Linked DNA regions of Homo sapiens: region 2 is reported to be linked to region 1. Evidence: microRNA targets listed by miRTarBase, many of them from high-throughput screens and not tested one by one. Region 1 holds a microRNA gene; the other region holds the end of a gene's coding sequence.
The links. The annotated mature microRNA hsa-miR-511-5p reads GUGUCUUUUGCUCUGCAGUCA and lies in region 1 at 2,249-2,269, shown strand. An mRNA with a match to its seed (bases 2 to 7 or 8) in the 3' UTR can be bound and repressed. Matches are read on the target gene's strand: a 7mer-m8 pairs with bases 2 to 8, a 7mer-A1 pairs with bases 2 to 7 and ends in A, and an 8mer does both.

Region 2: the mRNA of PROP1 is a reported target of hsa-miR-511-5p. Seed matches in the 3' UTR shown: 8mer at 352-359.

The regions. Positions count from the first base shown.
Region 1 is chr10:17,842,874-17,846,287 of GRCh38, forward strand. MIR511 (microRNA 511) reads left to right here and starts at 2,234; the gene lies at 2,234-2,320. MRC1 (mannose receptor C-type 1) reads left to right here. Exons shown (of 30, transcript NM_002438.4): 6 at 2,416-2,562.
Region 2 is chr5:177,989,668-177,993,011 of GRCh38, reverse strand. PROP1 (PROP paired-like homeobox 1) reads left to right here. Exons shown (of 3, transcript NM_006261.5): 3 at 1-777. The coding sequence ends at 303. Among named protein-coding and RNA genes, the nearest start is that of PROP1, 4.9 kb to the left of the region's middle.

The DNA of each region.
Region 1 (3,414 bases):
TTCAATTCCTAAGAAGTAGGTGCAAGATTAAATCACCTTGCGAAATAGTATGAGAGTTTCTTCCAACTAAAATTAGAGATCTTGTGGAAATTAAAAATCGGTTTCATATTTGTTCAGTCAAGCATTCAATTGAATAATTACCAAGTAATGAAAATATTAAAATATATTCACTTTTGAAGTGAGGATGTTTTGCATAAATGATGTACAAGTGTGAATTCAAATATATAATAACTATGGTAAACATCAAAACCACTAGTTGATGTCTCAAAGTTGAGAGAGGTATTGTATTGATAAATAAATGTGTAATATGATTTACTAATTAGCACATCAATTAATAACTTAGAGCTAGAAATGTATTTGTTTGAAAGTTTCTTTTTAGTGCTGATACCTTATCTGTTAGTTCAGTTATCCTGTTATTTTAGTTACAGTATCAGCAAATGTTTAAGATACCTTTATGCTTATTACTAACTTTATGATAACTTTATGCTTATTACTAACTTTAAGATAACTTTGGCCAGGTGCAGTGGCTCACGCCTGTAATACCAGCACTTTGGGAGGCTGAGGCGGGTGGATCCCGAGGTCAGGAGTTCAAGACCAGCCTGGTCAAGATGGTGAAACCCCGTCTATACTAAAAATACAAAAATTAGCTGGGCATGGTGTGGGCACTTGTAGTCCCAGCTACTCAGGAGGCTGAGGCAGAGAATTGCTTGAACCCAGGAGGTGGAGGTTGCAGTGAGCTGAGATCACGCCACTGGACTCTAGCCTGAGTGACAGAGCAAAACTCCATCTCAAAAAGAAAAAAAAAAGATAACTTAATGCTTATTACTAACCATTATTTTCTTTGTGTGGTAGTTAAATAAACTTTAAAAAAATCATTTAATTACCACACAAAGAATACCACCAAAACTTTAAAAAGGTTATTTAGGTTATTACCTGCTCCAGACTTTGTGGAGCAGGTAATATGATTTCCGTCTTGCAGGAAAGGAAGTGACATTCAGGCACAGGTTACATACACATTGGAGGTCACAAAGCATAGGTATTAACAGAATGTGGCTCATTCACCCTGTCTTCAGGTGGAAGGTGAAGCTAGTTTGGGGAGTACTGGTTTTTAAATCATATATTAGAGTAGCAAAACGCATGTGAAATGTATCAATGCCTACATTCATCCCTTTAGCAACGTTGACTTTATCTGGTTCTTTAATCAGTTTCCACTAAGAAATGGATAAGGCATAGCTGCTGAAAGTCTTCTTCAGTAGGCTGAGTTGAAGATATTGAGACAGTTTTAGTTCTGGGAGCACAGCATGCTGCCCATCTAGCTCTCCCATTAGCTTTTTCTCCTCCATTTATTTTTATTTTTATTTTTGAGACAGAGTCTCACTCTGTCACCCCGGCTGGAGTGCAGTGGTGTGATCTCCACTCACTGCAACCTCTGCCTCCCAGGTTCAAGCAATTCTCCTGCCTCAGCCTCCCAAGTAGCTGGGATTACAGGTGCCCGCCAGCTCCCCGGCCGATTTTTTTGTATTTTTAGTAGAAATGGGGTTTCATTATGTTGGCCAGGCTGATCTCGAATTCCTGACCTCAGTTGATCCATCCGCCTCAGCCTCCCAAAGTGCTGGGATTACAGGCGTGAGCCACCGTGCCCTGCCCTAATAATGTTTAGTGTGGCAGGTTTGGAACATCATGTATTCTTTCTTTTTAATAAATTCTACTTGTAGATTCAGAGATACATGTACACGGTTGTTACATACCTAGGTAAATTGCATGTTGCTGAGGTTTGGGATATAAATGATCCATCCCATCAACCAGGCAGTGAGCATAGAACCCAGTAGCTAGTTTTCCAAACTTTGTTACCCTCCATTCCTCCCCCATCTCATAGTCCCCAGTTTCTGTTGTTGCCATCTTTGTGTCCATGAGTACTCGGTATTTAGCTCCCACTTAGAAGTGAGAACATGGCTATTTGGCTTTCTGTTCTGCATTAATTCGCTTAGGATAATGGCCTCTAGTTGCATCCATGTTGCTGCAAAGGACATGATGATTTCATTTTTTTTTATGGCGGCATAATCATGCATTCTTTTCATTAGGTACCTCTCTTTGATAATGTAATCCGTTGTGACAACTGTTCAAGTTTTAAGGTGTAGCTTTATTAGCTGATAATGGGGGAAAGGGTTGTTTCAAAGAAGTATATTTGCTTTATCAACATTCTAAGTATTGGAATGATCCAACGATAAGAAAACAATAGACACCCATCGTGTCTTTTGCTCTGCAGTCAGTAAATATTTTTTTGTGAATGTGTAGCAAAAGACAGAATGGTGGTCCATTGAATCCCCAGGATGAAGACATGAGGAGACGTGGGAGGGATGCTATCTGCTGGGAATAGCTATAATAGTCCACTTTAACTTTTCCTTTTCCTCGAAGGAAGTCCATCAGCTGAACCTGGAAAAAGCTGTGTGTCACTAAATCCTGGAAAAAATGCTAAATGGGAAAATCTGGAATGTGTTCAGAAACTGGGCTATATTTGCAAAAAGGGCAACACCACTTTAAATTCTTTTGTTATTCCCTCAGGTAAGTGATCTATGGGATCTGAAGTGCCTCAACTATTAGAATTGAAAGATAAGTAACATTACAGCTTAGGTGTAACTGTTGGAATGCCGCCAGAGGTTTTGTGGATAGTTGATGGGGTAAACTTAATGATATTACTGCAATATTTCTGTGTGCTGGTTGCTAGTATTTCCTGAGTGTGCGGCGGTGTCTGGGCATTGTGGAGATCCTCTGACCTAAATAAAAATGTTACCTTCCCAATCAGTCCTCTGAGGTAGGTGTCATGATTCACATGCTATAGTTGAGGAAAAAGATATTCAGAGGATACAGAAACCTTGCAGACATGGCAAAACCGGAATCCAAGCTAGAAAGTCAACATTTGGAAGGGATGTTTATATTAGGTCCTCACGGCTCTATCTGGGCTTCCTTGCTATTCAGTGTAGCGTCTTATACTAAAGTTTTCATAAAATAGAATAAAATATCTAAAAAGTTGTAACTGAATTTTATTTATTTATTGAGACAGAGTCTCATTCTGTCACCCAGGCTGGAGTACAATGGCGCGATCTCAGCTCACTGCAAACTTCGCCTCCTGGGTTCGTGATTCTCCTGCCTCAGCCTCCCGAGTAGTTGGGATTACAGATGTGTGCCATCACGCCCAGCTAATTTTTGTATTTTTAGCAGAGATGGTGTTTCGCTGTGTTGGCCAGGCTTGTCTTGAACTCCTGACCTTGGGTGATCTACCCACCTCAGCCTCCCAAAGTGCTGGGATTACAGGCATGAGCCACCGTGCCTGGCCTGTAACTGAATTTTAAATATCGGCTAGACTTCAAGAAAAAAAAAAATCAATTGTGTTGTCCCTTACAATTTTATAGGAGA
Region 2 (3,344 bases), not on the chromosome of region 1:
CAAGAGCGCTCACTGCTTCAGCCTCTGGCCCATCTGTCTCCTGCCGCCTTTTCCAGCTTCTTGCCAGAGTCCACTGCTTGCCCCTATTCTTACGCAGCACCACCACCACCAGTGACCTGCTTCCCTCACCCCTACAGCCATGCCCTCCCTTCCCAGCCCTCCACAGGAGGCGCCTTTGCTTTGTCACACCAGTCTGAGGACTGGTACCCTACCTTGCACCCAGCCCCTGCCGGCCATCTGCCCTGCCCCCCACCCCCTCCCATGCTCCCCCTCAGCCTTGAGCCATCCAAGTCCTGGAACTGAGGTCAAACAAGTACCACCAAGGTGATCCCCAGCCTGCGGCCCTCGTGAAAAGACAAGAAAATGGGGTGGCTTCCTTTCCATCTATGGGTGAAGCAGATGCATGGTGAGGGTCAGCTCAGCGATTAGAAATTTAAAAATGGGAGATCATGGTGAATTCTCACTGGGGTGATTAGTGGAGGAAGTCTGGGGAGGTGAGCTACTGGAAGAGACAGGGCAAGATGCCTCGGTGGAGCTGCCTGCTGAAGGGTGATATTGATGAAGACAGTTGCTGGTGAGTGGAGATGATTGAAGGGCTAGGAGGTGAGGGCCTTCATTAATTGAGATCACGATTGAAGAAGATCCCAGCTCTTTCTGGCTGATTTCAGTAAGGCTTCTGACTTAAGAGTCTACCTATACATCCCTTCCCCATTGCCCACCCCGCCATCTCAATCAGTCACTGACTTTTGTTTATTCTGTCCTAGAAATACCTTTTTTTTTTTTTTTTTTTTTTTTTTGAGACAGAGTCTTGCTCTGTCGCCCAGGCTGGAGTCCAGTGGCACAATCTCGACTCACTGCAAGCTCCACCTCCTGGGTTCACGCCATTCTCCCGCCTCAGCCTCCCGAGTAGCTGGGACTACAGGTGCCCGCCACCACGCCCGGCTAATTTTGTTTTTGTATTTTTAGTAGAGACGGAGTTTCACCATGTTAGCCAGGATGGTCTCAATCTCCTGACCTCGTGATCTGCCCGCCTCGGCCTCCCAAAGTGCTGGGATTACAGGTGTGAGCCACTGAGCCCAGCCGAAATATCTCTTCAGAGTGTCCCCTCCTTTCCATTCCAGCAGACACTTGGCTTTTTCTGACCCCGTATTTTCTGACTTATTGTCGCATAGGTTCCCTTAACTCTAGTCTATCCCACTTCCAACAAACCTGTGCAAATCTCAACATCAAGGAATGCTCTCCAATGTCTTATAAAAAATACATCAATCAGATTTGATTAGTTTTGCCTGTAGAAGTCTTCAACATCTGCCTTCAACTTTTAAATCAGCGGCACATTTTAACATATGTGGTTTCTGATAGAGAAGAAACCATTTGATTTAGGGCAAACTTTTCTAAGACGAAACCGTCTGAGGCTGATGAGGGGTCATTCCCAGGAAGGGACCTGCCTCTTCTGGGAAACGCCTTGGTCTGAACCCTCTCAAAAGAAACAGCATGGAGCCTAGTTCATGGTACAATTTTTATGCGATATTGCTTATTATGCACTTATTTTACTCACAATTCACTTATTTATATGTATGCTTACCTCTCTTATTGGAGGGTTCATAGAAAACTTTTTTAAATTAAATTTTTTTTTCTTTTTTGAGACGGAGTTTTGCTCTTGTTGCCCAAGCTGGAATGCAATGGAGTGATCTCGGCTCACTGCAACCTCCGCCTCCCGCGTTCAAACAATTCTCCTGCCTAAGCCTCCCGAGTAGCTGGGATTACAGGGTGTGCCACCGTGCCCGGCTAATTTTTTGTATTTTTAGTAGAGACGGGGTTTCACCATGTTGGCCAGGTTGGTCTTGAACTCCTGACCTCGAATGATCCACCTGCCTCAGCCTCCCAAAGTGCTGGGATTACAGGTGTGAGCCACTGCGCCAGGCCTGATTTTTTTAATATTTAATTTTTATTTTTTCATGTGCCTCTAGATATGATTTTTATTCTTGGTTTTTTTCCCCTCCCTCTTTCATCTCTCTCCTCTCTTCCAACTCCTCTTCCCTGTCCCATCCCTGCTACCCATTTAGTGGGAAGGAAGTTTCCCTGTGCCTGCAGCCCTGCTCCCCGACCCTCAGCAGGGTTACCTCCTGCAGAAGCAGGGCAAGGGGTAGGGACAAGGGACGGGGAGGCAGCTCGATGAAGTGAAGAATGAAGCCCCTGGAGGGAGGTGGATGGTGATGGCAGCAGTGGTGGCTGTCAGCCGGCATTCTCGTGCTCACAGCACTTCACAGAAGAATTTTTTTTTTTTTTTCTTGGGACTGAGTCTCACTCTTGTCACCCAGGCTGGAGTGCAATGGCGTGATCTCAGCTCACTGCAACCTCCACTTCCTGGGTTCAAGCGATTCTCCAACCTCAGCCAACTGAGTAGCTGGGATTACAGGCATGTACCACCACGCCCACATAATTTTTTTTTTTTTTTTTGAGATGGAGTCTCCCTCTTTCGCCCAGGCTGGAGTGCAGTGGTGTGATCTCGGCTCACAGCAACCTCTGCCTCCCGGGTTCAAAGTGATTCTCCTGTCTCAGCCTCCCGAGTAGCTGGGACTACAGGCGCCCGCCACCAAAGCCGGCTAATTTTTGTATTTTCAGTAGAGATGGGCTTTCACCATATTGATCAGGCCAGTCTCGAACTCCTGACCTCAGGTGATCCGCCTGCCTCGGCCTCCCAAAGTGCTGGGATTACAGGCGTGAGCCACCACACCCAGCCTCACCTAATTTTTGTATTTTTAGGAGAGCTGGGGTTTCACCATGTTGTCCAGGCTGGTCTCAAACTCCTGATCTCAGGTGATCCACCTGCCTCGGCCTCCCAAAGTGATGGGATTACAGGCATGAGCCACCACACCCGTCCCATAGAATAATCTTTAAACGGGCCTTTAGTGATGGATACTCAAGTTGTGAGTAGTTTTTTATATATATTATTAAAAAGTCTGGAATCACAACCCCTGTATTACACAATTGCACTCCTACCTAATTATCTCCTTGAGCCAGACTGCCTTCTAGAAAAATTACACTGGTTTGAATTCCACCAAAAGAACCTGAGTATTGGTTTCAGCACCTCCTTGTTAACCTGTACCATTTTTGACAATTTGTTAACTGAGAGTGATGTCTTCTTGTTTGCTTATTTTAAAATGTTCATTAATTGCTAGTGAGAGTTAAAAGTTTCATGTTTATTGGCAATTTACATTTTTCTTTTCTGCATTGCCTCTGTGTTGTGTATTTGTATATTGATATAGTCATCTTTTATTAGCGTCTGAGAGCTTTGTGGATTAGGGATATGAATTCCTATTCATACATGTTACAACCAATTTTTT